2 linked regions of the Homo sapiens genome follow. The protein of the gene in region 2 purifies or fractionates together with the protein of the main gene of each other region. This does not show direct contact. Each region holds a gene or a part of one and is shown on either strand. Other genes may lie near its edges.

Region 1 (15,172 bases), on a different chromosome or scaffold from region 2:
AGTCTCTTTGTAGGTCACTCAGGACTTGCTTTATGAATCTGGGTGCTCCTGTATTGGGTGCATATATATTTAGGATAGTTAGCTCTCCTTGTTGAATTGATCCCTTTACCATTATGTAATGGCCTTGTCTCTTTTGATCTTTGTTGGTTTAAAGTCTGTTTTATCAGAGACTAGGATTGCAACCCCTGCCTTTTTTTGTTTTCCATTTGCTTGGTAGATCTTCCTCCATCCCTTTATTTTGAGCCTATGTGTGTCACTGCATGTGAGATGGGTTTCCTGAATACAGCACACTGATGGGTCTTGACTCTTTATCCAATTTGCCAGTCTGTATCTTTTAATTGGAGCATTTAGCCCATTTACATTTAAGGTTAATATTGTTATGTGTGAATTTGATACAGGAGGATTTTCACTTATTTCCCCTGAGAGCCAAGGAGAGACAGACACATTTTCTTGTTGTTTCTTTTTGCTTGTTAAGGAACTTTTTCTAGTTTGCACTTAGAGCGTAAAGATTTGGCCTTTGAGCATCTCAGATTTATGTGAGAGTCTCAGTCTTAACTCCCCACCTTGTGCACACCCAAGGCCTTGTCTTCTACTTCCGTACGGTTTTTAAAACTCAAAACTCTTAGTTACTATGATTGGCAAATGCCTGCAGGGCAGCTGTGGCTGCTACATCCACTTATCACTTGTTTTTTTCCGTTTTTCTCTATTTTGGGGCCCTATATTTATAAAATTTTCTTTATTTTTGTGAAAGGTCAGCAGTGCATTTAAGAAGACAATTTGCAGTGGGGAGTTGTATTGTTGTTATTGTTATTTAGTCCACTGTATTGATACATTTATTTGGTCCACTATATTGATAGCCCCCATTTAGCAGATAATGAAACTAAGACCCTAAGAAGGAAGTGAGTTGCCTAAGGTCATACTGGTGGGTCAACAATTGAACTGGCACTGGAACCAAATGTTCTTGATTCCTAGTTTAGAGTTCTTCCCCTCTGGGCAAATGTGCCTCATCTTCCTTTCTCACTCAAGTATCTCTCTTACGTTTAGTCCTATGAGGATCTGGTTCAGCGTCTGGAGCCAGTGATAATGGAGCTAGAACGACAGGAGAATGTACTGGTGATCTGCCACCAGGCTGTCATGCGGTGCCTCCTGGCCTATTTCCTGGATAAAAGTTCAGGTACTACCCTCATCTCTGCTTTGGGAATGTTTGATGGTATTTGAGACACTGACACCAACAATTAGATATCTATATCTTAGTAGTTAAGAGAAGAGTATCTAGAACAAGGATGCCTAGGTTCAGATTCTTTCTCTTTCACATACTAGCTGTACTGCCTTTCACAAATTTCTTTAACTTCTCTGGCCTCAGTGTCCTCATCTGTAAAATGGGGAGAATAATGATGAATTTTAAATAACATAAGTAAAAAGTTTAGAACAGTTCATGACACATTGTGTGGGCTATATATTAACTGCTATTATTAGTATAGTATTATTCTTAGCTAACATTTTCAAAGCCAACGTTAACAGTCTGCCTCAATCTGGAAAAGATGAGCTAGTATTTCTGTGAAGCATGCTACCATCAGGTGATAGTAGGGCCTTTCATAGCTTCATGATCCTGATTACAAGTTTCTGTCCTTGCTATAGGGGTAATTTCCCCAAGATAGTGATGTTTTCATTTTAAATTGTTTTTCAAATGATAATTTATTTTTAAAAAAATATGTAGGCATTGCATTTACAGAGTATTTACACACTGACTGCATAGGCTGAACTGCAAACTGGGGCAGCTGGCCTGGCAAAAAAAAAAAAACTGTTATATCACTTTCAGGCATGAGATTCCATTTCCAATGTGGATGCTGATGTGTTAGCATTTCCAGGATATTTTTAAGGTGTCTCAGAGCAATGCAAAATTATATTCAATGTCTACACTGTTTTACAGTCTTGGATCTTTTCTACGATGCTAGTTTGAAAATAAAGAACACTGTAATATGGAGTCATCCAGAATTGGAACCCAGGGCACTTGAGAACTTGACATTAAATAAGGAATTTCCTCTGCCTGGTCCTCAGTTTCCTCACTGGAAATAGGTGATAGGATGTGCGGTGGGGGTCCTTGCACTGGTAGATTTCTCTCTGTTCACATCTTTACTTTTCAGGGCAATGTTTTGAGACCATGAGGCAGGTGCTGTAACTCCCATTGTCCAGATGAGGAAATGGGAGACCCAGAAAGGTGAAGTGACTGGCACAAGGTCATGGGGCTCAGAGTGTGAGGGATAGACATTGATCCCAGGTACATGCCAGAGGACTTCCCGTCTCAGACATGTGTGGAGTGCTTTTTACACACAGGCTACCTGTCCTGGGAGCCAGACAGGGCAGCACTGGACAGATGTTCTCACCCCCCCACCCACCCCATTACTTAGGTGAATGCTGGAACAAGGCCCAGAGAGATGATGTGACTGAGAATGCAGACCCACAGAACATCAGGGCTGGGGCACCCTCAGAGTACATCTAGTCCAATCCTGTCCTGTGAAATGGGAACACTGAGGACCAGAGAGAGAAGAGCCCGGGCCAAGGTCATTAGTGGAGGCAGTGGCAGAGCTGGGTCAGAGATCTCAGGCAAGTCACTTCCCTTCTCCGAGTCTGTTTCCTCAAGTGTACAAGGAGGGTGTACAGTAGTACCTCAATCTAGCTTTAAGGGTGTCATGAGGTAGTGGGCAAAACACCCTTGGCCCAGGGCCTGATGATGACAAAAACAAGGAGGAGCAGCAGGATGGATGCCCAGGAAGGAAAAAAGCCAACCTAATGTCTCAGGAGGCTGGGAGGGCAGTGGCAGACCTCAGAAACCTAGGGTGGAACCTGCTGTTGAGGGAAGCCATGAGGGTCGGTGATCCTGCAAAATGAAGGGAAATGGGTAGCGTTATGTGCAGGTGGGCAGGAAAGTGGGTGTCAGGAGAGAGTGCCTAGCAGGTGGGTTTATCACCCCCAGGACACTGCAAGCCCCTGGATGGCAGGGGCAGTTGACAGTAGGGGCCAGTGCATGCATTCTGGCCTCACAGGGTCCCAGGTTCAAGGCCTTGCTCTGCTGCTTCCTGGCTGTGTGACTTGCGGAGAGCATTTTCCCTCTCAAGGCCTCAGTTGGCTGAGACCATGAAATGGGCTTACTGTCCCCACCTCTTGGGCTTGCCTGAGAAATGGAAACATAGACCCAGACAAGAATGCATATGAATATTCAGAACAACTTTATGCATAATGTCAATAACTGGAAACAAGTGAATGCACAAATGCTTGTCCATCACCAGGCCTGAGGCAGGGATGATCAGAGGGAGCGGGCCAGGCTGGGAGAAGGCTGTGGGAGCTGTCCACTGCCACAGCAGGGTCTCAAAAAACACTTGCTGACGTGAACTGTGGGCCTTTGTGGTGTGGGGTCTGCTGAAGGCCCCAGGCTTGGGGCGGGAGAGAAGCCTGCCTGGGTCTCATTTGTCCTGTGAGTGAGGTGGTGGCCGTCTCCAGGGTGGCCGGCCCAACCCTCCTGCAGGACACCCAGTCCAGTCTACCACCATTTTCCAAGGCATTCCTGCCTCCCTGCTCTCCTCCTCTCTTCCCAGGTGCTCTCAGTGCTGCCCCTGCAGGGTGTGGGGAGTGGGCCCCTGGTGAGGCCCCACCACGGCAAGGGGACATGGAATGGGGAGCATCCAGCAAGCCTGGGGGCCTGGGGAGGCTGTGTCCTGGCCAGCACCCTGCCTCTGAGGGCTGCTTCCTGTTCCTTTCTAGATGAGCTTCCATATCTCAAGTGCCCTCTGCACACAGTGCTCAAACTCACTCCTGTGGCTTATGGTAAGTACTCCCACCCTGATCAAAGGACAGGCATATAGAGGCTATGAGCATGGCCCTAGTGCCTACCATTTGCCCAGAAGAGTCCTGCAGGAGGTTTCCTGGGTGGGTGTCCTGCAGGAGGTTCCCTTAGTGGGTGGTGGGGGTGGGACTGATGGTAGTAGGATAACAGGGAAAGAGTAGGATGGTTTCTAAATCTGGGGCTGGCTCTGACTCTGTGTCTTTGCCAGAGCACCCAGCACAGAGCACCAAGCTGTGGAAGGGGGATTCCCCAAAGGGGACCAGAGGAAAATTATAGGTTAGGGCCGTATTGGAGAAAGAGCACAAAGACCAGCCTGGGCAGTTTAGGGTCTTTCTTGGGACATTAGCTATGAAAGGTTCATGAACAGGGGAGGGACAGAATCAAATCTATTCTGGGGTGCGAACAGGGCAGATGACCTACTGAAGCCTGGAGTAAGGTGCAGTCCACAGGGATGAAGCTAAGGGAGCTTCCACAGGCATTAGGCCCCCTCTGTCAGCCCCAAGCCCCAATGATGCACCCTCATCCGTCTTCAGGTTTCCTAAAACTCCCAGGTGAACTTCCATACTCCTGGTGTTGCCACAACCACATTGTCCTCCAGATAAACTTTGCCTGGCACTGATCGCCCAAGGCAGTGGCCCCAGGACTCTTCCACCTCTTCACCACCTAACACGGCTTGGAGGATCCGCAGAGCTACATCAATATTACATAGATGAGACTGCTGTCCTGCGGACCTCAAGAGCTGTGGGCAGCCAGAGTTCATCTCTCATCTCCATCCCCATTTACAAATGAGCACCTGAAGCTCAGCGAACTAAGACTGTTAGGGGCAGAGGTGACAGGATACCCTGTTGGCTGCCTCTTAGGCCTGGTGTCTTCCCCACACATCACATAGCTGTCTAAATTCTCCTCCATACAGGCGAGTCATGATCTGTACACAGTATGAAGCTGGGGGTGTGGCTGGTGATGGGGGAGGGGAGGTGATACCTCAGGGAAGACCTGTGCCTACCTTGGGGGCCTATGGACAGATGGATTGTTCTTTTCTAAGGCTGCAAAGTGGAATCCATCTACCTGAATGTGGAGGCCGTGAACACACACCGGGAGAAGCCTGAGGTAGGTGGGGGACTCCATGGCCCAAGCTGGCTGTGGACACAGCACATGGTGAAAGCACCTTATCCACAGAAAGGCTGCCCCAACCCCACCAAGCCTGGGTGTTTTGCACCAACAGATGGAGCAAACAGCACCCAGAAATGCAGAAACCACAACCCAGACACGAGGCACCATGGAGATGCAAGGCTGGGGCAATTCCCGCCTAAAAGGCCTCAGGCTGAGATTCCCCCAGGCCTACCTGAGGGTCAGGATCCGGGCCTGGCTGAAAGAGGGGAGCCTGGCAATGAAGACAAGAGGCAGGGGAGAGGTTGGGGCCCTGCACTGCTGTCTCCTTCCTATTAATCCTGCGCTCTCTCCTCAGAATGTGGACATCACCCGGGAACCTGAGGAAGCCCTGGATACTGTCCCAGCCCACTACTGAGCCCTTTCCAAGAAGTCAAACTGCCTGTGTCCTCATCGCCTTCCACCTTTAGGAAATGCTATCTTTGCTCTTCTCCTACTCTGCCTTGGCCTCACTGAGGCACCCCACTTCCAGTGAAGAAGTCCTCCGCAACTCCCAAACAAGCCTCGCTTGCTGGCCGCAACCAAGGAGCTATCTAGCTCTGGAGGAAACTTTCTTTCTTAATTCCTATTCTCTGACGAATAAAGACTTACTGCCTACAAGAGGAGAGGAGGAGGTCATGGCGAGGCTTTTCCAGTTGTTCTCAAGGTACTGACCCTAATCCTGACCCAGCTCTGCTGCTGTGAGGGCATGGAATGGGTGAGGATTTCCTGGAGGGAAAAGTTCTACAGTAGCACCTCCAAAGATGGGGGAGAAGATAGGTGCCTGTGAGTTCCTGTGGGCCTTGTTCCAGCAAGGTGGCTGTGGGCATGACACTTTCATCCTTATACTCAGGGAAGAATCTGGCACTTGAGCCAAGTGCTCCTTTCTTCTCCAACTCTTGCTGCCATCCTGAGTGATTTCACTGTTTATGTGAATGATCCAACCAATACTCTGGCCTCACAGTCCCCTGACCCCCTCAACTCCAGTGATCATCTTCTCCCCTTCAACCACCTACTCCATGGATTTTGGTATCATCTCCCTGGTCTGACTTCTTAAACGTAAGCATCCAACTGTCTGACCACTGCCCACCCACTACCCCAGTCCTTACAACTCTCTGTCATCCACTGAATCCCTAGCAGTGTGCCTCCATACAGTAGGCATATATGTAGTATTTTCTTCTTTTTTTTTGAGACAGGGTCTCACTCTGTCACCCAGGCTGAAGTGCAGTGGTGCAATCTCAGCTCACTGCAGCCTCAAACTCCTGGGCTTAAGCAATCCTCCCACCTCAGCCTCTCTCACAAGGAGCTGGGACCACAGGTGCACACCACCATGCCCGGCTAATTTTCAATTATTCTGTAGAGACGAAGTCTTACTATGTTATCCAGGCTGGTCTTGAACTCCTGGGCTCAAGCAATCCTCCCATCTTGGCCTCTCCCAAAGTCCTGGGATTACAGACATGAGCCACTGTGCCCAGCCCTGTAGTATTTTTTGAATGAACAATATTTGTTGCTGTACAGCATCAAGAGCAGAGTCCTTTGAATGCTCTATTGTCCCCCAATCTATCCTTAGTGTTCTGTCCCTAACTATGTTGGATACTATGGGCCATCTCTTCAGCCACTCTCCAGGCAGCTACCATAAGCCAGGTACCAGTGACCCAGTGGTAAAGAGACAGACTCATACACTTGCTGCCTTTGTTCCCTTGTCCTTCCATCACAACCACCCAGCAAGACCTAAACCTTGTATAATCCACCTCTCCTTTTGTTGTTGTTGTTGTCTACTACAGAAGTTGCTGATCCCTGCTTGAAGCAGATCTATATTTATCTGCATCCACAGCCACCCTTAAGTCTGTTCAAAGTCAGGGTTGTCTTCTCTGGTACCCTATTCCATCCCACCTTCTCAGGGATGGGCTACTTCAGTCAATTCCTGACTCTTCCATATCTATCTCCTGTTCCTGTTAGCTTTTGCCCCACAGTCTATACAATATGCCCAAGTTTTCCTCTCCTATCCCAATTAAACCCTCCCTTGTTCTTATGTCCACCCCTAGTGACCTCTGCCCTTCCCTCCATTCTTACACCAGTGATTCAAAATCAATCTGTACTTACTGTCCAGAAGCCTCTCCGTTTGCCTTCTGCTCCAGGCTTTCCCTCTCCATATCTTTCCTCAACCTGTTATCCTCTTGCCTGCCATGCTTTCCCCAGGCCTCTATCCTGCTGAAATCATATTTGCCTTTGAGCCAAAAGCTGGAGACCCACATTCTCCAAAGAGCTATGCTGATCTCCAGCTCTTCTACGAACCCAAGATGCCACTCCACAACTACCTAAGCACATTAAAAGACAGAAAAAACTCCAATTCATTTTGCAAATTTAATGTAACTCTGATACCAAAATATGACAGCACACAGAAAGCAAACAATAAAGCAGGAACAGCAAACAGATTTTTCCATCACATGACACCCTCAGCTGATTGGCCATAACTGCCTTGACTGCTGTGTGGACAAAGATTCCAAGGATGTACTTTGGCTCCATGGGAAGGACTACTGCAATTTATTAGCGGTATCTGTAAACATGGGGAATAAATCTGAAAACAAAACAAATAGGAACACATTTTAGCACCAAATACACTGTCTTCTCATAATTCCTTAATTGCCCTCACCTTTCCACCCTGCTGTCCTGCCTTAGTGTTTCTTACAACATCTCCCAGCTCTTGTACCCATCCCTGTGGGTCCTGGCTATGGAAATATTGCAGTTACCTGAAACCTCACTAGCCATACGAGAAGCCACAGGCACCAAGACTGGCGGCTCCACTGCCAAAGCCAGCACTGGTGCTCGGTCCACCACCAAAGCCAGCACCAGTGTTTGGTCCACCGCCGAAGCCAGCTCCTGTGCTCGGTCCACCGCTGAAGCCACTGGTGCTTGGTCCACTGCAGAAGCCAACACCAGTGCTTGGTCCACCGCTGAAGCCAACAATAGAACTGGGTCCACTACTGAAGCCCGTGCTGGTGCTGGGTTCGCCAGTAAAGCCAGTGCTGGTGTTGGAACCACTGCCAAAGCCAATGATGGTACTCAGTCCTCTGTCGAAGCTGGCATTAGGCCTACTGCCAAAGCCATCGCTGGTGCTGAGGCCACCACTAAAGCCAGCACTGGTGCCAAGTGTGCTGCCGAAACTAGCATTGGTGCCCAGTCCACCACCAAAGCCATCACTAGTGACCAGTCCACCACCAAAGCCAGCACTGGTGCCCAGTCCGCCACTGAAGCCAGCACTGGTGCCCAGTCCACCACCAAAACCAGTGCTGGTGCCTGGTCCTCCACCGAAGCCAGCGCTGGTACCTAGCCCACCATCAAAGCCAGAACTTGTGCTTAGGCCACCACTGAAGCCAGCACTGGTGCCTAGGCCACCACCAAAGCCAGCACTGGTGTTCAGTCCACCACCAAATCCAGCATTGGTGCTTAACCCATTGCCAAAGCTGAAACCGGTACTGGTGCTGGGTCCATCACAAAAACTAGGGCTGGTAGCACCACTAAAGCAGGCACTGGTGCTAGGAGGGCCACCAAAGCATAGGTTAGTATTAGATGCACTGCCAAAGCAGAGGCTGGTGCTGGGAGCTCCACCAAAACAGAGGCTGGTGCCATGAGCACCACCAAAGCTGACACTGGTGCTGGGAGCAGCACCAAAGCCAATGCTGTTGCTGGGAGTACCACCGAAGTCAGCAGCGGTACTAAGTGCCCCACCGAAGCCAGCACTGGTGCTAAATGCACCGCCAAAGCCAGGGTTGGTGATTGGTGCACCACTGAAGCAAGCACTGGTGCTGACAGCACCACTGAAGCTGGCACTGGTGCTGACGGCACAGCCAAAGCTGGCATTGGTGTTGAGTGCACCACCAAAGCCAGCACTGGTGCTGGGAGAGCCACCAAAACAGACGCTGGTGCTTAGTGTACCACCAAAGTCAGTGTTGGTGCTGACAGCACCACCATAACCAGCATTGGTGTTGAGTGCACTGCCAAAGCTGACACTGGTGCCAGGAGAGCCACCAAAGCAGACACTGGTGCTTAGTGTACCGCCAAAGTCAGCACTGGTGCTCATAGCACCACCAAAACCAGTACTGGTGTTGAGCACACTGCCAAAGCTGGCACTGGTGTTGAGAGCACCACCAAAGCCAGCACCAGTGCTGGGAGAGCCATCAAAGCAGATGCTGGTACTTAGTGTACCACCAAAATTGGCACTGGTGCTGGAAGAGCCACCAAAGGAGACACTGGTGCTAAGTGTGCCTCCAAAGCCAGTGCTGGTGCAGGGAGAGCCACCGAAGCAGATACTGGTACTGAGTGTACCACCAAAGCTACCACTGGAGCTGGGAGAGCCACCAAAACAGACACTGGTGCTGAGTATGCCTCCAAAGCCAGTGCTGGTGCTAAGCGCACTACTGAAGACTGTGCTCGTTGTGGGTGCACTGCCAAAGCTGGTGCTAGTGCTGAGTACACCACTAAAGCCAGCCGTGGTGCTGAGTGTGCCTCCAAAGCCAGAGCTGGCTCCACCACTGAAAGTGGCACTGGTGCTGAGTGGGCCACTAAAACTAGAGCTGACTCCACCACTAAAGCTGGCACTGGTACAAGGCATGCCACCAAAGCTAATGCTGGCTTCACTGCTGAAACTAGTGCTGGTGCTGTGTGCACAACCAAAGCTAATGCTGGCTGCGCTGCTGAAGCTGGAGCTAGTGCTCAGTGTACCACCAAAGCTAATGCTGGCTGTATTGCTGAAGCTGGCACTGGTGCTGGGTGCAACACCAAAGGTAATGCCAGGTCCACCACTGAAGCCACCACTGGAGCTGGGTGCACCATTGAAGCTAATACTAGCACCATCGCTGAAGCCAGCCCTGGTACTAGCTCCTCTGCTGAAGTTGACGTTGGTGCTGGCATCTGCATTTTCTTGGGCTCTGGCCTCAATTTCAAATGAAAATCTGCTCCAGGCCTGAGCATCATCGCCTAACTCTTCCCTTGTTAGGCAGTCGATATCCATGTCATCCCAATTCCAGGGCCCAGCCACAGCTTCCTCTCCAATCCCCATTTGGGCTCTTGCCTCAGCCCTGGCTTCAGCCTCAGCCACAGCCACAGCTGCAGCTTGGACTTCCATCTCCACTGCCTCGCGGTACTGCACAGCCCAGTCCTTGGGGTCTTTCTTCTGCACCTGAAATGGGGATGATAATCATAATAAGAAAACAACCCTAGTAATCATGTATTAACCTACGGGCTTTGTATTAAACTAGTAGCAATACTTTTTTAAACTTCTCAGTTATTGGGGCTCTATCATGGGTCAGTTCTGAACTCCAGTTTCAGCTCTGCTGACTTACGTGCTATATGACCTTGGACAAGTTACTTAACCTCACTTAGCCTAAGTGTCTTTATAATTACAGGAAATGATAGAGCGTAAATATGTTATGAACTGAAGGGTTGTGCCCGCCCCCAAATTCGTATGTTGAATCCCTAACACCCAGTGTGATTGTACTTGGAGATAGGGCCTTTATGGAGATAATTAAGGTTAAATGAGGCCATAAGGGTGGGGTCCTGATCAACAGGATTAGTGTCCTTATAAGAAGAGACACCAGAAAGCTTGCTCTCTTCTCTCTCACACACAAAGCCATGTGAGGACACAGCAAGAAGGCAGCCATCTGCAAGCCAGGAAGAGAGCCTTCAACAGGAACTGACCCTCGTGGACCCTGACCTAGGATTCTCGCCCTCAAGAACTATGAGAAAATAAATTTGTTTTTTAATCCACCCAGTCTATGGTATTTTGTTATGGCAGCCCATGCTGATTAATACAAAGTATGAAGAATGAATGAGATGATGTAAACTATATATCTAGCAGCACCCTGGGACATAAAGGAGGCTCCACATGTTTATATATGAGCTGCAGGCTGCTCTGTACCTGCCCATCCCTGTGCATTGCCTGCCCCAGCCAAGGGTATCCCATTGCCTTAATATGCCAAGCTCGGGCAGCTCTCCTCTTACCCTGCATGCAAACTTGAGGACTTTCATCTTGCTAGTCTCGTGGTAGGAGCGCAAGCCCCAGAAGAACTCATATTCAGGTGGTCTGCTGTTAGGGACCCTCTTGTACTCCAGGTACCTTGGAAAAAGGAAATGAAACTTGTTTCTAACCAAGCAACCCTGCTGTCTAAGCACTAGACACCAGGTGGCAACCTCCTCCAAACAAATACAAACAGCCCCTGGAGAGGGATTTCTAAGACCCTCCAGCCCCAGACTCACTACCAAACACAGTTTATGGTCTTGGCCTCCAATACTGAGCCATTTCCCACTGGCCCTGTGCAAAGCAGTCCCTTGGGCTTCTCCAGGGGAGACATGTATAGGGCATGATGTCACAGGAAGGCCAAAGTATCATGCCACCTGTGAGGAGTAAGCCCAGATTCCTGTTGGGTGTGTTGTAAACAGAGGAGCCATTCTTAAGGCCCTCTGCTCTGAGCGCACCCCACTGCAAGGGCCTTGTGTTGAGTCTGGCCCAGTCCTGGAAAGGTCTGCCCATGGGAATTTTAGACAGTATCAGTTCTAGGACACAGGATGCCCATCCCTCTAAAGCTAGTATAAGAAAGGCACTGACTAAGCACTTTCTGAACCAGATCAGTATACCCAGAACACTTCAGGGCCAGACAAAGCCCCAAACACCACTTACTTCTGCTTCACAAACTCGTCTGTGATGAGCTTCCTCACTTCCCCAAAGAGTGAATGCCTCACCCTGACAATGGGAAAAATAACCCATGAACACAGATCAGAACTGCCCAGATGAGGGCAGAGGCATTTCCCAACATGGAAGAGACCTCTCTAGCACATGGGGCAGTCTCAATGAAGTGAAGAAAGTAATGAGCACATGGCCACTAGAAGCAAGCAGTTAAGACCAGATGCCTCTTTGTCAGGGATCCCTGAAGGTCTATCTAACATCTCAGCTTAGAACAGACAGAGGACATTAAGGAGAGAGACAGCAGAGAGTTCAGGACCATTTGCCCGTCATCCACCCAGGTCAGAACCCTGGGCCCTCTACCCAGTCCAGCACCCCACCCGCTCCACCAGACCACCAGACTGATGCAATCCTAGGACCATCCTCTCTTGCCAAAGGACAACACGGACAGCAAGCGCTGAGAGAGCCCAGTCATACCCAGGGCGCAGCCCCAACTTGCGCAGCACCTCCCAGATGACAGCTGTGAGGGGAGGCAAGAGGAGACAGGGACAGAAATTGAACACATGGAATCCAGACCATGGCCGCCCATTCAGCTGCATGCCCAGCCACTCACCCTCACTGGCCTTGTTGCCATTCATAAAAATGACACTCAGAATCACCATGAGGAGACCCAGCTTGGGTGTGTCCTTGGTCCTAAGGGAATAACAGGACAGAAAGAAGGTTTATGTTTCAACAGGACAGAAAGAAGGTTTATGTTTCAGCAGCCATCCGCAAAAGATACACCAGCCAGCTCACCAGGCTAACCTCTCCCAGATTCCTCAGATACAGAATTCTGCCCAGTCTCTGCTTCCAGCTCTATGCCACCCTGGGCAAGGCACTTAGACCTTGCAAGCCTTGGTCTATTATTCAGTAAAATGGGAAAATCATATTCTCCCTTCCTCAGGTTGCCAAGAAGATGGAAGAATGGCTGTCAACCTGGTACAACACAAGCACTCAGTCAATGTGAGTCCCTTCTTTCTCTCCCAGAACCTTCAGCCCCACTGACACTCTTGCGCTTCATGCATACTGATCCAGCCACACCAGGAAGCCCTCCTTGAGAACCACTCTGTCAAAGCCAGGCCAGGCACTCCATCGGAAGAGGCAAGCAATGACAGGCCTGCTTTCCTGGGAAGCTTCTACAGAGACAGCAAACCTGACAGCAGGAATGTCCCACCCTAGGCTCCTATACCCTTCAGTCAATCATAATCAGGTGCCACTACTGTGAGCAGGGCTCCAACTATGTGCAGGTGCTGAGACAGGGCTTTTGAGACCCTGTTTTTCCTGACTCTCTAAGAGGATGGGGGAAGTAGGACAAAGAAGGGGTAGCAGCACAGATAAAAGCAGAAGCTTCCTTCCCACTCCAGCCCTTTCCCAGCTTACGTTCCCAGTATGCCTGCAGAGGATTCCTGAGTGCTGATGAGAATATACAAGCTACTTTGCTTATCAATTTCTTTCAGATTGACTCGAAACATCTGCCAAGTAAAAGAATAGCCTGTGAGATCACAAAATTCAGCTTAGGTATCAGTGAACTTTCCGGGCATCCTAAAACTCCCAGTGTACTTAGGGGGTCTGCATGTGTAAGAAGTCAGTGAGATAATGCACATAAAGCACATAGCCAAGTGCCTGGCACCCAGTAAACACACAGCAAATGTACTATTGTCATCAACATCATCTTTGTGATGAGCAGGAATCTAGGGAGACAGAAAATGGGGATACAAGGGAGAGGTGAGATCTGAAATACATGCAGAATATGTCCAACTATGAATAGAAGCTGAGACTAATTTGAGTGGCTTCTGTCCTAGCCATGTTTTCATCACTGACATGCTGTGTGACCCATGGCAAATCTACACCTCTCCCTAGGCCACTGTCTGCCCATTCACACAGTAATGGGGCTGGATTAGCATGTTTCTGTGATTCTCTCCAAAAGGGACATGTATGTCTTTGCTCGATTCAAAGCTTCCCCATTGCGCCCATCCGCCAGCACTGCCCCTTCACCTTCTCCAGAGTGTAGCTTGCTCGTTCAATGATTTCTGGGAAATATTCATCATATTCTTGGATGACATCCCTCAGCATGTCTGTAGAAAAGGAGAGGTGAGAGTAGCTGAGCTTAGCAGGGGCCACAGAGCTGCAGCCCTTTTGCCAGTCCTGTTGGGTCAGTGCAATCAGAGACCTGAAGTGAGTTAATGGGAGATGCCAGCCATGGCAGAGTGCAAGGAGGGCAGGTGTGGAGATATGACAGAACAAAGAGGCCATAAAGTGTTACTCCCAGACTATGGGAGGAGAGGGGAGTGGAGAGGAGAGCTCAAGGAGGAGGGTTGGTAGGACACTACCTGAGCGTTTGATGGGGATCTTTGTCTGGTCCTTAACCAACAGGTATTTCACCAACTTATTAGCCTGGGAGGAGAGGAATAGATGGAGAGATCTTAACATGCTTGCAGAAAACTTGGAAGGAGGCAGAGAAGAGGGCAAGTGAAGAAGAGAAGAGACTGGACAGCATTGGATTCTTACCCTTTCTTGTAAAATGGCCACATCTCGCGGTGGTGCAGGCCTCCGGCCCCATGGGATCCGCCTGTAATTACTGCCACTTCTCTCATCCCCATTCAGATGCTTGGACTTCATCATCAGAAAGAAGGAAGGTCCAGAGTCACCAGGTGAAAGAGATGGCTCTGTCTCCTCACCTTGCCTGCTCCAGACAGAAAGTCCCTCTAACCCCCTCCCTCAGCCTTGCTGTAGTGGAGCCTGATCCTGACCTTGCCATTGGCCACCCTGAGTCCTGAGCTTATCTTTCACTGTCTTCCAGGAAGGAGTTTCGTTCCTCTGCCAGGCCAGGAACAACTCAAGATAAGAGCCTAAGGGTCTTTCTCTTCCTCTGGCTACCACCAATTATGCTGGCTGGTACCTCTTGGACAAGTCACTTCATTTCTCTGAGACTCAGTTTTCTTAAGTGTAAAACTGGGACCTATGATCCCTTGTTGGTAAGAGTTACTTTCAAGACATTCAGACATACCCTGTGTAACTGTACCCAACACAAAGCCTGGCACGTGGTAACTACTATTTAAATACAAGTAGTATTACATACAGGTTGTAGCTGAGTGTATGGATGTCTTATTTCCTCACCAATCTGTGAACTGCTAGGGAGCAGAAACTATATCACCTTCTTCTCAGCATCTTCCACAGCCTATCTGAACACAGGGACTAGCTCAAAGTAAAACTTTTATAGAAGAAATGAACAAACTAGAAGGGTAGAAATGGAAAAGAAGCACAAAGTTAAGGATGGCAATGTCAGAGATCTCACCTTTCGGTTTCTTTTGCCCCGGGTCCTGGTTGTGGGCTCCAGGCTCAACTGAGCCAGATAGTCATCTGCCAGGGCCTGGACAGCAGCAGCAACCTGAGTCTCAAGGGCACTTACGTTGGTCTGAGCAGAGGCTATCTTGGCCTGGGCCCCTTGGTCAGCATTTGGAGTCTGG
Region 2 (15,172 bases):
AAAAGTAGCAAGCTAAGATGATTAAATGTGTAGTCTCATTTTTTAAAAAGCTGTTAAGACTTACACATTAGCTTTATTTTTGTGAGCAAAAGCAATCGTACAAACCCAATATGGAACAACTCAATTCTTAACTTGTAACCAGTAAAGTGAACTGAATGTGAAAACCTGAAATTTATACAATAATTCTCAGAACATGCACAGTTGCATATGGCTACGTATTTCATGCTTTATTTTGTCTAGATGGTTTCAGACTTCTCTTTGCTGGTATACCAAAACGTAAGGAAGAAAGATAAAGGACCAGGAAAAAAAATTACACTTGGGCAAGTTATGGTATCTGCTGATTTTATACAGCAAAATCTGGTTTACCTTAACAATGCTGTAATTCTATAGCACCATGACAACCAGGCTTTTTGCAAAACTCTTGTCAGTTCCCAAGAAGGAAGGAAAGTGAAAAGAGGAGACCCACGGGCAAGCTAAGCCTCGCTGGAAGATCAACAACTGGACAGCTCACTCCTGAGATTCCTTTCCAGCATACAGTCGCCCTGGCTTTCCTCAAACGCTATCCAAAAGCACTTCAGTTTGATTCATGTTTGCAAACTTTCCAAGCTGACTCCAAGACGTTATTAGATGTGGATCACTCCCAGAGGAACATCTCAGAGAAACAATGGTTAGTGAATTCTTTAAAGTGCAATAAATTGGAACAGACAAAATTCGGCATATGTATTTTGAGTTGGAAAGTTAAGGAAATAATTTATTGAACATACTTCTTTTGTCCGCTGTTACTCTGATATTCTTGTTTAAAAACCAAGCCATCAAAGTTATGTAGATCATGTCTCTCTCTTCCCCCAAACAAAAGCTTAATTCTTTTTTTTTTTTTTTTTTTGAGACAGAGTCTCGCTCTGTTGCCCAGGCTGGAATGCAGTGGCATGATCTCAGCTCACTGCAAGCTCCGCCTCCCGGTTCAAGGGATTCTCCTGCTTCAGCCTCCCGAGTAGCTGGGACTACAGGCGCCTGCCACCACGCCTGGCTAATTTTTTGTATTTTTAGTAGAGATGGGGTTTTACCGTGTTAGGCAGGATGGTCTCGATCTCCTGACCTTGTGATCCGCCCGCCTTGGCCTCTCAAAGTGCTGGGATTACAGGCGTGAGCCACCACGCCCGGCCACAAAAGCTTAATTCTATTAAAAAGTCAATTGCTATCAGTGCCTTTTATCCCCCTTAAAATAAAAACAACAAATTATATAGATTTCATCTACCCCTATTTCCCAGATATAAATTAAATTTCTTCCACATTTAGGCAATTCCAAAACTAAAAGTCATCTTTGCCCATAAAAGAAATATTTGCACAAAGTAGCTTATGAATTATAGTACCTGGCCTTTCTACACTATCTTTCAAAATAAAATCAGTAAGTAGAAAATAGGAGCCCAGGTTTCATACTAATATTGCATTTAAATTTTTTTTTATTGTATTTTAGAGACAGAGATTCACACTCTGTCAGCCAGGCTGGAGTGGCACAATCATGGCTCACTGTAGCTTCAAACTCTTGGGCTCAAGTGATTCTCCCATCTCAACCTCCCAAAGTGCTGGGGTCACGGGCGTGAGTCACACCATGCCCAGCTGGAACAATAAAATGTTTAAGTTGGCTGGGCAAGGTGGCTCACGCCTGTAATCCCCGCACTATGGGAGGCCGAGGCGGGTGGATCACCTGAGGTCAGGAGTTTAAGACCAGCCTGGCCAAGATGGTGAAACCCCGTTTCTACTAAAAATACCAAAAATTAGCCAGGCGTAGTGGCGGGTGCCTGTAATCCCAGCTACTCAGGAGGCTGAGACAGAAGAATCGCTTGAACCCGGGAGGCGGAGGTTGCAGTGAGCTGAGATTGTGCCATTGCACTCCAGCCTGGGGAACAAGAGCGAAACTCTGTCTCAAAAAAAAAAAAAAAAGTTTAAGTTATATTCACATAATTTCCTTGTTTGAAAATGGAATTGATGGCAATCTAATTTACAGCAACCTATTTAAACATAATTACTAGAATATTTTAATTTTTCAGACAGAGTCTTGCTCTGCTGCCCAGGCTGGATTGTAGTGACACAATCTCAGCACACTGCAAACTCCACCTCCCAGCTTCAAGTGATTCTCCTGCCTTAGCCTCCTGAGTAACTGGGATCACAGACACACGCCACCACATCTGGCTAATTTGTGTATTTTTAGTAGAGATGGGGTTTTGCCATGTTGGCCAGGCTGGTATCGAACTCCCGGCCTCAAGTGATCTGCCCACCCCAGCCTCCCAAAGTGCTGGGATTACAGGTGTGAGCCACTGTGCCTGGCCAATTACGAGAATATTTAATTACTAAACATAGTAGAATACACATTTAAGCAAAACCCTCATTTGGACCACTTAAGAGTGAAGGCTTACAAAAACTAGTAAAAGTCTAAAGGAAATAGGTTTTGCATCTTTCCAATACGTAATAAAATTGCAAAGTCAATGTTTATAATGTATTAAGTAGAAGCTCAAATGCTTTTAATAGGGAAAATTTAATTTGGACATACTAGTAAAGTATCTAAAACATTTATTAAATTATTTTTGTCAAGTATCATCTTTACTCATAGATACTACCAAAGAGCAACCTAGACAGTAAAATTAGTTCCCGTATCTGAGGACTCCAAATTAATAAATTTTAATATATTAATATTAAACAGAGCATGCATTTTTAGAAGGATGCAAATTTCTACTCCTTCATATCCAGAGATTAAATTCAGCAAAGCTAATGGACTTGTTAACACTTACACAGAACATGGAAATAGGTCCTGACTACATACATACTCCACATAACTACTGAAAACTTAAAACCCAGTTGCTTATTTCATGGCAACCTGGTAGAATAATTATGTAATAAACGACAATAAGAAAAAGCCACTTATCATATAGTCTAGTCTTTATTGAAAGACTTACTTCAACTGTTGTTTACAGCTTTGGCTTAAGTTGGCCATTTTAGCCTCTCACTGCCAGCAGACATAAAAATCAAGTGGGAATGGCACGGGGGTTGGGAGTGAAAATACTAGTAGAGAAATTATGAGAACAAAGAATATGGCAGTCAGTCAGAAACACATCACCAAAATAAATCTCAAAATAATTATGAAATAAAAAACATTTCCTTGCATGCCCAAAAAGTCTCTGCTGATGTTTTTGATGAACGGGGTGGGGAGCAACGATTCTTAGGCTTAAGTTGGATCAAGATAGCATTGGGTCATGTTATAAAATCATCTGTTAGCTCAACAGCCATACTTTTAATTAATTCATTTATTTTTTGAGATGGAGTCTCGCTCTGTCGCCCAGGCTGGAGTGCAGTGGCGCATTTTCAGCTCACTGCAACCTCCACCTCCCAGGTTCAATTCTCCTGCCTCAGCCTCCCAAGTCACTGGGACTACCAGCGCCCACCAGCACGCCCAGCTAATTTTTTTGTTATTTTTAGTAGAGATGGGGTTTCACCATGTTGGCTGGGCTGGTCTCAAACTCCTGACCTTAGGTGATCCACTACCCGCCTCAGCTTCCCAAAGTGCTGGGATTACAGGTGTGAACCACCATGCCCGGCAACAGTTGCACTTTTTTTTTTTTTGAGACGGAGTCTTGCTCTATTTCCCAGGGTGGAGTGCAATAGCACAATCTTGGCTCAGGGCAACCTCCGCCTCCTGGGTTCAAGAGATTCTCCTGCCTCAGCCTCCTGAGTAGTTGAGACTACAGGCACGGGCCACCACGCTTAATTTTGTATTTTTAGTGGAGACAGGGTTTCATCATGTTGGTCAGGCTGAGCCACTGCGCCCGGCCCAGTTGTAGTTTTTAAATGGTACATTTCATTTGGATAAGTAGCTTTGTATTTTAAAAACCACTTAATGGCCAGGTGCAGTGGCTCACGCCTGTAATCCCAGCACCTTGGGAGGCCGAGGTGGGTGGATCACGAGGTCAGGAGATTGAGACCATCCTGGCCAACATGGTGAAACCCTGTCTCTACTAAAAATACAAAAATTTACTAGACATGGTGGCATGCATCTGTAGTCCAGCTACTCGGGAGGCTGAGGCAGGAGAATAGCTTGAACCCAGGAGGCGGAGGTTGCGGTGAGCCGAGATTGCACCACTGCACTCCAGCCTGGCGACAGGGCAAGACTCCGTCTCAAAAAAAAAAAAAAAAAAAAGCCAGACACCGTGGCTCACGCTTGTAGTCCCAGCACTTTGGGAGACTGAGGCGGGCGGATCACGAGGTGAGGAGATCGAGACCATCCTGGCCAACATGGTGAAACCCCCATCTCTACTAAAAACACAAAAAAATTAGCTGGGCATGGTGGCACGTGACTGTAATCCCAGCTACTCAGGAGGCTGAGGCAGGAGAATCGCTTGAATCTGGGAAGCAGAGGTTGCGGTGAGCCAAGTTCTCATCACTACATGTACTCCAGCCTGGCGACAGAGCAAGACTCCATCTAAAAAAAAAAAAAAAAAAAAACCACTTAATATGAAATAACTTCCATTAACTGATCATGAAATTTTGCCCTCTTTCAGATTAAGATGAAGGACACTTCAGTCACATGTTTACTGTGGCAATATAACTAGTCTGGATAATTTTATTAAATCATAGAATATACAGTCAGGAAACACTACAGCTATATTTAGCTGTTAGTTATCTCAATAAGCTACTTAATTTACTGGCAGACCAAAACAGGCATACTAAGCATTTTTATCAATTAAAAAAAGTCTTCAGTTGTTCAAGTTTCACATATACTCATAAAATTTTTAACTCGGGGGCACAGTTAACATAATTTATTGAGTGTTCTCCCTATAAAATATAAATTAACTTTTCCAAAAACATTCCTCAAAGATACTATAAACAAAAGAAATAAGGGTATATTTTATAACAGAAGAGTGTAATAGATGACCATTATGGTAAAACTAAGGTGCCATAAAAAATTTGGCCCAGCTATGAATTTCAGACCCTATGAATTTTTATGTTGAATACATTTGGCTATATTGCTAAGTGGGAAAAGGAGGAAAGTAATACCAAAATTATTGTGACCACCAATTTATAAAATCATTATTTTAAAGCTAATCGTAAAACTTCAAATGTTTAGAAAACAGTAATTTGTGGGTACTAATCGCATCTTACTATGTAACTGTAAAAGGCTATTTTCTCTTTGGTGCCCAGGCCAGCATTTTGAATACATTGCCAAAACATTTGCACTCCCTAGCTCTGACAATTCAAATACATAGGATTTTATCTATTTTACATTCCTGTTTGATAGAAATTTGAGGCAAATTTTACCCACACAGCCTGAAAAATACCTTGAAAGCAAACCTCGGTCTTCTGCATCTTCCAATTGATTCCTTTACAAACTCTGCACACATACAACTTAAGCCTCTGCTCAGGCTTATTATACCATGCACACTGCCCACAAGGAAAAAAATTAATTGAAAATAAAAGCCACAACTCTGTGTACTATTTAAACTGAATATCCAATTATAAATTGGTACATTGAAGTGTCTAAATAAGATGTTTTTAGCAATCTTGTTAAAAAAATTCTTGGGCAAAATATATCTTAATTTTTAAAAACACCCCAAGATTTTTAAAAAACACTTGTACTATACAACTTATAGTAACCTTGAAATTGGTTTACAAGGTTTTAATCAAGGTATTTACATACCAAGTAATGTAAAGCAAAAAAAAAAAAAAAAAAAAACAAAAACAAAAAACTAATTCCCAATGACATTTTAGAACATACTAATGCATCAAAGATTGTATGAAATTAAAATTAAGGCTTTTTCTGCACAATTTGTGTAATTTTAATTTTACATAGTAGCCAACCTTGGAAATGTCAGTCTTAACATTCTGATCAATCCACTGCATTCAATGCAGCGGAGTGTGTTAAGTGTTACTTCAAATAATTACATTGCTGCTACTTCTATGTTGAAGCATGCTTTTTAAACACTGTAGTTATTGAATATTTACAATATGTATCATTTAAACTTCATGTAAAAGCACAAGTATGACTGTCTGACTTCAATACAAACACCATACTTGGATTTCCCCCCAAAATGAAATGTAAAATACTACAATTTTAATAATCGACACTTTTGGAAGTTTTAAAAATATGTCTTAACGTGGACCACCAACATTTGCTCAAGTAACTCAAACAATGCTGTTCCTTTTTTAGGGTGCAAAACTTCAGTCTGGCTTCAGTTTCTTTAGGCATAGAGAAAGAAAATATTTCCTCCAAAGCGACTCCAAAATCACGCATTTCTTCTGAATATCACACTTTTTCTCTGCTGACTTCAAATGTGGTCCACCTCAGGGAAGGGGAGGGGAGTATCAGGATTCAGGATGAACTTATATGTGATTCCCAGGTTTTCACGATCCTCCCTTTTTTGCTCTTTTAAAAACACAGTGAGTTAAAATACTGAACAGCAAGATAAAAATGGAATAGTATCTAAGAATCAAAATGTATTAGCCATTTTTCCTATTATATCAAAATTTGTAGTCAGAATTGTCTTTATTGACTTTATTTTAGTTTTTGTACATAAAGAAAAATCATGTTCATATCCATCATGAACAAAAACTTAAAAAGGCAGAACTAGAAGACACGTGTCCTTCACCAAAGCAAATCTGTGCTAAAGGTTCCAAACATTTCAATTTTTAAAATAAATATTTTCATTTTCCGATGTCTACTTTCATGTCTTCAGAGTGTCACAGGAAATCGAAGCCTATCATGAATTACAATTTTTTTTTAGAGTCCCGGCTCACTGTGTTTGGTAACTTGCCATACCATATCCGGCTTGGTTAGGAGGAGGTATTACAGGGGGAGGAGCTTGTCCTTGGGGAGGCTGAGCACCAAATCCACCCATCCAAGCAGCAGAAGGTGATTGACTTGGAAGAAAAAGAAAAAATCTTCAGCAAACACAAGAAAAAAAAAATCACATATGTATTTACACAAAAATCAAGCAGAGCCTAATCACAGAATAGAAAACCAGAAATCAACACACCTACAACAAATAGAAAGATCAAAGAAATAAATGATATATGTGTAGAATACATATTCCAGTATTAGTCTTTGATATTTTTAAGATAACCACAACTTAACACACTGATGTCTGAGGAGTATCTGCAAACTAATTTTTTAAAAATTGTGAATGATTCAACACATCATCTATTACATAAGAAATTTTAAAAACAAGTTCATGTTGGAAACAGTCTCAAAGGAAGAAATCTGAAAATAAAGCTATGGGCTGGCCCTGGGCAGGGGAATTACAAAGGAGGAAACCACTCTATCAACAAAAGAAAAAAAAAAAAAAAAAAGGCCAGTTACTTTGTATCACACAAACCTCAGATTTCTCACACATACCACATAGGCATAAAACCATCAAACTTTTGAATATATCTGGACAAAGATCTTTTACATGCAAAAATAAATAAAAGTGTATCAGAAATGTAAATCAAATTCTACCAACTGCTTACAGGGATCATAGGACACACTAAATGTTACCCCAATCCCCCCTTTCCACCTAGGTAATGAGAAGTAATTTCTTAGCCTCATAAATCATATTTTGTTAGATTAGTTTCTATAATGCTCATAATGCCAAATAGCTCAATGTATATAATTAAAATAGATTCTCCCTAGGAAAACACACTTTTATTTATTTTGTCAGAACCATACGTTTCTATACTGGAAAAACCCAAACAACTTACTCTACTCCAAATCCTTGTTGATTCCATGGTTGCCCGTATACTCCATAAGGCGGTACTTGCCACCCATTTGCCATATACTGTCCATACTGTTGTGGGTTTCCATACACTTGGCTCCATTGGCCCCATTGACTATAGTCAACCTAGGAAAAAGCAAAGTATTGTTTTAGGGAACACATAAGAAACACCGTATATGAAGAAAGAGTGGGAGACAAGGAAGAGAAAAACTAAGTAAGCACCCTTATGTGAATAGGACTCTGTTATTTATCATTGTCTAAGTTTATTGGGGTGGTGACACCTGTGAAAAGAAAGTATTAAGATTCAGTTAATACCGCAAATAATCAATTTTGAAATACAATCAACTGAAAGTAGCTATATGCTTTATTTTATTGTTCATTTTACAGAGTTTCCAAAGCTTTTATGTGACATGTAAGATGGAAACCTTAAAGAATGCTATGAAAAATCGAATTACCTGTTGGAAGTTTTTAGTCATATCAGGAGATTCTTTACCCCAATAGCATTTAACCACATGTCCTTCAATCGTAGTACCGTTCACCGAAACAATGGCATGGGCTGCACTTTCATGGGTTGAAAATCTAAGAAAGAAAAATGATATGGTTTTGTCTTTTATTTTTTAAGAACCTAACACAATAAATAACATGGAAACTCATCAGTTTACACCTGCAAGTTGGTATTTTTTTTCTAAAGTACATTAGGTAGGTAGCTTAAACTTCTATACTGCAAAGAAGCACTAAAATAACAAACACTGATACCCTGGAGAACATAAGTGAAAGGAATGAATCAAATATAAGAGTAATAATGATATTTCAAGTAGAGTGTTACCTGACAAATGAATAGCCCTTTTCTGGGAAAACTCTTATTTCCATAATTTGTCCAAATGGTGAGAATGTCTGTCTCATAAGCTGATCTATAAAACAAAACATACAAATAAAACATGGCTGATGTGTATCATGAAATTCATATGAACAGTGATGAAGCTCCTCAGAGGTGATTAGAAAACCAAACATTGTACCTGTTAACCCAGACGCAATTCCTCCACAGTACACAGTACAATTTTTTGGACTTGACTGGTTTACTACATCTTCAAATCTCAACTGCTTAGTGTTGTCTGTATGCAGAAACAAAACAAAAACGTTGACTGTTATATTGTACTATGAAACTCTTCTGTTAATTACTATATACTATTAAGATATGCCTCAGGCCGGGCACCCAGCACTTTGGGAGGCTGAGGTGGGCAGATCACCTGAGGTCAGGAGTTCGAGACCAGCCTGGCCAACATGACGAAATCCTGTCTCTACTAAAAATACAAAAATTAAGGCAGGGCACGGTGGCTCACGCCTGTAATCCCAGCACTTTGGGAGGCTGAGGCAGGTGGATCACGAGGTCACGAGTTCGAGACCAGCCTGACCAACACGGTGAAACCCTGTCTCTACTAAAAATACAAAAATTGGCTGGGTGTGGTGGCACACGCCTGTAATTCCAGCCACTCAGGAGGCTGAGGCAGGAGAATCGCTTGAACCTGCGAGGCGGAGGTTGCAGTGAACTGAGATCGCACCACTGTACTCCAGCCTGGGTGACAGAGCGAGACTCCACCTCAAAAAAAAAAAAAAAAAAAAAAAAAAGATATGCCTCAATGGGAGGAGAAAACATAATTTTTCTTGATGCTATGATTTGACACAGACTTGATCTATAAAATCAGGTGATTCACAGCTCCAAAAATACTTATACCACAGCCCAATTATTTTCAGATAATGAAATATAAAATGAAATAATTAGAGTCTTGCAACACTAATTAAATACTACGTCAGCCTGGACAACGTAACCAGACCCTGTCTCTATAAAAAAATTACAAATTAGCTGGGCATGGTGGCATGTCCCTGTAGTCTCAGTTACTCAGGAGGCTGAGGTGAAAGGATCACTTATACCCAGGAGTTTCAGGCTACAGTGAGCTAAGATCATGCCACCGCACTCCAGCCTGGGCAACAGAGCAAGACCCTGTCTCTTACATAAATAAATTAGAAATTGAGACTAGATGAATACATGATACATGATTTTGTGAAGAATATAATTTTAACACACACAGTGGACATATCTTACTTTCTTGTGTACTTTTAGGTGCAGGTGGTTTACGAGTGGCCCAATTGGTTCGGATTTGACGACCACCCAACCACTGACCGCCCATATGCACAATCGCATTTTCTGCATCCTATGGATAAAAAAGAAAGCACAATCACAAAGAAAAGAGTGATAAATAAGACTCTGTAAGATGAAATAAAATATCGGCGCTGCTGGTTCCATACAAATCAGTAGATGAATTTACTAAATATCCTAAACAAAACGAAACTGAACTATTACCAATTAGAAAACGATTTGAACTTGAGATTCAATCTAAGCAAAAACAGAATACTCTGGCCCTTTATCTTACCACTTCAATAAAATGTAGATGACCTGTAATCCCAGCACTTTGGGAGGCCAAGGCAGGAGGATCACTTGAGATCAGAAGTTTGAGACTAGCCTGGCGAACCCAAGTGAAACCATGTCTCTACCAAAAATATAAAAATGAGCTGGGTGTGGTGGCACATGCTTGTAATCCCAGCTACTCAGGAGGCTGAGGCAGCGCGATCGCTTGAACCCGGGAGGTGGAGGTTGCAGTGGGCTGAGATGGCACCACTGGACTCCAGCCTGGGCAACAGAGCGAGACTCTATCTCAAAAAAACAAAACAAAACAAAACAAAACATTGATTTAAGTTATTGAAACTGCTTTAAAATCAAAGCCCACTTTATTATTTAATGTTACAGTTAATGCAAATGCTTACTTTGGTACCCCTTTTACAAAGAATATATGCAAAAATCAAGATGAATTGCTTAAATTTTTATTTACATAATTTGTTGTAGTCATTCACATCCCAGTTATATAAGAGTATGAATAATAATTTAAAAGGTAGAGTTAAAACTGAGATTTTCATGGTTAAAACTGAATATAATTTACCTAACCTCTAAATTCTCAGATTAGCTCATCTGTCCTAGACTTGGGCTTTACTTCTAAATCCATCTGACCTTTACCAATGTACAAACACAATTTTAATAATCTTCCTTATAGTATAATCATTCTTTTTCTAGCTATTTATTTTCGAGTTTATGAAAGAGGAATGAAATTATACTCTATTATTAAAACATACATAACATTACATAAAAGTTGTGTTTGTAGTTAACATTCAAGTATATTCAAGTTTCAGATTCAATACATTAAGTAACTAATGACTAAATTTAGTATTAAAAAATATAAATTGAGATGGAAGAACGTACCAGTTTGTTATAAAAAGATACAAAACCATAGCCTTTGGATTTTCCAGTTGCCATGTCTTTAACTACCCGGGCATCCCTGTGAAAAGAAGCACAGCTAAATGAGGGAAGTAAGAGCCACCCTCAAAATAAAAACTAAAAGGAACCACACACACTGTATTGTGAGCATTTTTAAAATAAAATTCCAGTTAGCCCTAATTAACTACAACCATTCCTGAACTCTCCCTAATGCTTCTTTACCTGTTAGAAAAAAGCAGTAGGACAAAAACATGTAATAAACATGCAACCTAATCAAATAGCCTGTGCTTTCTAAACTAAATGCTCAAATTTGAAGATTAATAGGAACAACAGTTTCCCTTTCTAATATTCTATTTACTAGTGTCCTCTAAGGTTTACTGATTCTATAAATTACTGTAACAATACTAACTACTTTACCATGCAATCTCTAAATAGTTAAATGTCTTCTGCCTAGTGATACAAAATATATGAAATATTAAAAAATTGAAAAAGAGGAAAAAATAGGAATTAAAAAGGCATACATGGCCTGTTAACAGATTTCTTTATTTTTCTTGGTCAATTCTCTACCATCATTTTGGAGTTTGGGCAGCTGTAAATTTTGAAAAATTGACATTTTCAGAAATTTAAGAAAGGAGAATAAAAAACTAACAACAATGCTAAGCACACCAGTACGAAAACAACAAATTTACACAGAAATTTTAGTGAGTAAGTTAAATGATTGGAAATATAGAACTCCACTGAATATAGAATGTTAAAATGTAAATACTAAAATATGTATATATAAATAATGTATAATAAGAATAAATAGAAATGAGAAAAAAAATCTACAACTGAGTTCCAGTGTGCACAGTTCCTTGCAGTTAGCCTTCAAGATCCTGTCCATTCTTATGAGCAATTCTGCAAAATAACCAGAATGCTATTACTTTTAATTGTGACTTGGACTTAAGAAAAACTGCAGGTCTCAGGTATAAATAAAGATTGAAAAACAGCAACCTGTATTATTTTTATATTGATTTTTAAAATAGTACTACTTACCACATTTAGATTAAAAAGCAAAGCAAATATCAAAACAGAAAGTTAAGAATTACATCTTTTAAAGAAATTAAATCTATAGAACAACAAATTGTATAGAGAAAATATTGTTGTTCTTAGTTGAAACACTTTCCTGTAAAGTAGTACTAAGATGTTTAATTTAAATCTACAGGAAATATACAAAATAAACTGATTTTAATCAGAAAGATAAATTATGATAAACATTTTCTACAATTCATAACCATTTTTAGTTTTCCAATATATTTTTTACCAAGTAACAACAGTAAAATCTGAGCATAAATTTGTTAAAAATCAAACCACATTTGCCTCTTAACTAGTAGAATCAAATATCACTAACAAAAACATCTAATTAATCCCACATTTATGACTCATACATTGAAACATTTTAATAGTATAATAGTACTTTTCACTTATAGCTAAAATATCAAAAACACATTTATCATAATAAAACATGAACATTTCCAATTTAATCACAATATATCCAAGGATTTACCTACTCTCCCCCATTTATAAATTCCTCCTATAAAAGTTATTGAACTCTTACACAGTATAGATCACATTTACTTTTGATTAACTCATTATCCTAAACCATCAAATTTTGAAAACATATGACAAAAAGCTAGACTTTATAAGTTTTACCATTCAAACATCTGCTTCAAAGATAACAAACAGAATCACTTAAATTTTTTTTAACATATTATACACAGGATTAGATGAAAACGAGACCCCAAGACACTGAAATGACATTAACATTTTCAACAACATCCACTACTCAAAACAAACCAAAATAAATAAATGAAAAATAAGAAACAAAACAAAACCATACTAACTAGAGAAAGAAAATCTTAATTCAATTACAAGTTAATCATATACAATTCTGCCTATCATGACTGAGTGTAGTACTGATTATGATACTTACGATATTTTACCAAAGGGGGCAAATGCTGATTTGATATCTTCTGTTGTAATTTCTGGACTCAAATCCCCAACAAACACATGGAAGTGATCTGAAATCAGAGCATTTGGTAATCAAATACTTAAGAAGTCAGCCACTAAAACCTTTTTAAGGCAACTCTAGAGGAGGAAAAAAAAACCTATTTAAGCTGGTAATGCCTCCTGGATAATTTCAGAACTCTTCCACAGTAAAATGCAGCAGGAGTACTTACTGGAAGTATCTTTTTTCTGGCTACTTGGTGTGGTTGCCCAGTTTACTTTGACCTCCTAAAAATAAAGATTATATTTAATAAAATTATTAGGCATGTCATGAGTTACAACACTTACCACTTATTAAATCATTTATCAAGCAGGGTTATTTTTGTAAAAGCACTAAGCTGAATAAAGCAAAACCATCACTCAGCAGCCGAATATCTGCTCAAAAATTTGCCTAGAAAGAATACAAACTAGTTTGACATGCAAATATATGTACTCATAAGGTGCCATCATCCTATTATCTTACCTTTCCCAAAATTTTTCTCCCATTCATAGCAGCTAATGCAGCAGCTGCATCTCTGTGTTCATAAAATTCCACAAAGCAATATGGGTCATTGCTTGTATGCTGCAAAACAGAAAATCCAACAGAAGAGTTGACCCTTCTGCTATCGGGTTGCTGAGAAGAAAATCCAGGAAAAAACATTACTGATAGCTGGGAATATACAAGGTGAGACTGCATAAGCTTATGAAAGCCTAACACTTTTTAAATAAGATTTAAAGCTAAACCTGACTTTGCACCTCAGAATACTGCTGAACTCAAACGGAACTATAAAAGCAGTTGTAGAATCATGAGCATCAGTATTAAATGAAAATAAAGAATTCTGGTGAAGTGTGTTAAATATAAAATAGAAGATTATATTAAACCAAACAAAACCTCAAACTCAGATCTGATGAGGACCACTCCTTACCACTACTTTCCTTCTCCAATATTATTTTTAAATTACGTTCTACTTATGCATCATAATCCTCTATAAGTGGTATCCCAGGATACAGAAATACAGCAAGAACCAACTTCATAAACTACTGATCAAAATTAGGATCAATACTACAAATGATGGAATTCTATGCTGCTACAAAGACTGAATTTTATTGATTTCTTTTCTGGATATGGAAAGAATGAAAATAAAAACAAGAAAACTTAAGCTTTATAACCAGCTACTGAAATGAATTCCCTACCTTCCAAAATAGTCTAATGTACTGAAGATTCTATATACTTTGAATTTGGTCTTCCAAAGATCAGAGAAATAACAGTGGTGATCAAGAAAAGAGGTTCTGAAAATGTATCTGAATAAAATATTCCAAGACAAAGCTATAAGTTTACATCATAAGAACACCATATAAAAAATCTATATTAAATATATTCTGCAACCCTGTGCTTGACAGTAGTTACCTAAAACACATTTATAAAGATGTGAAGAAAGTAGTACTACCTAAGCTATAGCAACATTCTCACCTGACAACCAAACTAGAAATGAATTTCTATGAAACTGCAACCTGTACTGAATAGCTGCACAACTGTACAAATACATATTTTTATGTAAGGCTAAAAACATTCATCATTATTCAATGTAAAATGCCCTATAAGAATAATATTTAAAATGTGGAATTCTAGTTGGACTTACAAGGGATAAATATACCAGATAAAATAAAGATCTTTTCAACCACAACAGTTTTTCATTCCAGGAAAGTTTTAGAAGAAAAATCCAAAATAAGACGTCTAAACAATAGTGGCAAAGGAACCAGAAGGCATTTCCTTGAGGGAAAAAAAGTGGGATCGTTAATACTGACAACAAAACTATGGGCTCTCATACAAAATCCTACTGTTGTAGCCACGTGAATGCTGTTCTTAAGAGGTAAAGAAAGGAAATGGGGGAAGACTTCAAATGAAAACACACATTTAAATTCTTGTAAAAGAGTTATTACATTTACCATAAATATTCATTGAAGAAAGGACATCAAAATAAATAAGAGGCTAAAATTGTGCTAGTTGAGTTTTCCTTTCACTCCTATCTCTTTTGCCCCAATGGTCTCTAAGGAAAACACTGATAATCACAGCAAAACATAC

Evidence for each region.
Region 1: the proteins of TIAL1 (region 2) and TRO purify together in Homo sapiens (affinity purification with mass spectrometry; 2 studies listed by BioGRID and IntAct, with this or other methods). This does not show direct contact.

What each region holds. Positions count from the first base shown.
Region 1 is NC_000023.11:54,923,597-54,938,768, reverse strand, and holds the end of TRO (trophinin), read right to left. Parts: coding exon 15,001-15,172; intron 14,319-15,000; coding exon 14,214-14,318; intron 14,100-14,213; coding exon 14,036-14,099; intron 13,781-14,035; coding exon 13,701-13,780; intron 13,178-13,700; coding exon 13,086-13,177; intron 12,360-13,085; coding exon 12,280-12,359; intron 12,187-12,279; coding exon 12,144-12,186; intron 11,727-12,143; coding exon 11,664-11,726; intron 11,465-11,663; exon of another isoform or gene 11,334-11,464; intron 11,103-11,333; coding exon 10,988-11,102; intron 10,167-10,987; coding exon 7,749-10,166; 3' UTR 7,738-7,748; intron 7,566-7,737; coding exon of another isoform or gene 7,431-7,565; 3' UTR 7,338-7,430; downstream 1-7,337. Other genes in the region: PFKFB1 (6-phosphofructo-2-kinase/fructose-2,6-bisphosphatase 1), read left to right, coding at 1,045-1,174, 3,760-3,822, 4,884-4,948, 5,307-5,366. UniProt on the Homo sapiens protein: Could be involved with bystin and tastin in a cell adhesion molecule complex that mediates an initial attachment of the blastocyst to uterine epithelial cells at the time of the embryo implantation. Directly responsible for homophilic cell adhesion.
Region 2 is NC_000010.11:119,568,886-119,584,057, forward strand, and holds the end of TIAL1 (nucleolysin TIAR), read right to left. Parts: intron 13,724-15,172; coding exon of another isoform or gene 13,673-13,723; coding exon 13,574-13,672; intron 13,339-13,573; coding exon 13,284-13,338; intron 13,125-13,283; coding exon 13,037-13,124; intron 11,962-13,036; exon of another isoform or gene 11,588-11,961; coding exon of another isoform or gene 11,586-11,587; intron 11,126-11,585; coding exon 11,050-11,125; intron 9,950-11,049; coding exon 9,841-9,949; intron 8,852-9,840; coding exon 8,756-8,851; intron 8,651-8,755; coding exon 8,566-8,650; intron 8,319-8,565; coding exon 8,195-8,318; exon of another isoform or gene 8,021-8,194; coding exon of another isoform or gene 8,003-8,020; exon of another isoform or gene 7,866-8,002; coding exon 7,726-7,865; intron 6,928-7,725; coding exon of another isoform or gene 6,907-6,927; coding exon 6,780-6,906; 3' UTR 4,580-6,779; downstream 1-4,579. UniProt on the Homo sapiens protein: RNA-binding protein involved in alternative pre-RNA splicing and in cytoplasmic stress granules formation. Shows a preference for uridine-rich RNAs.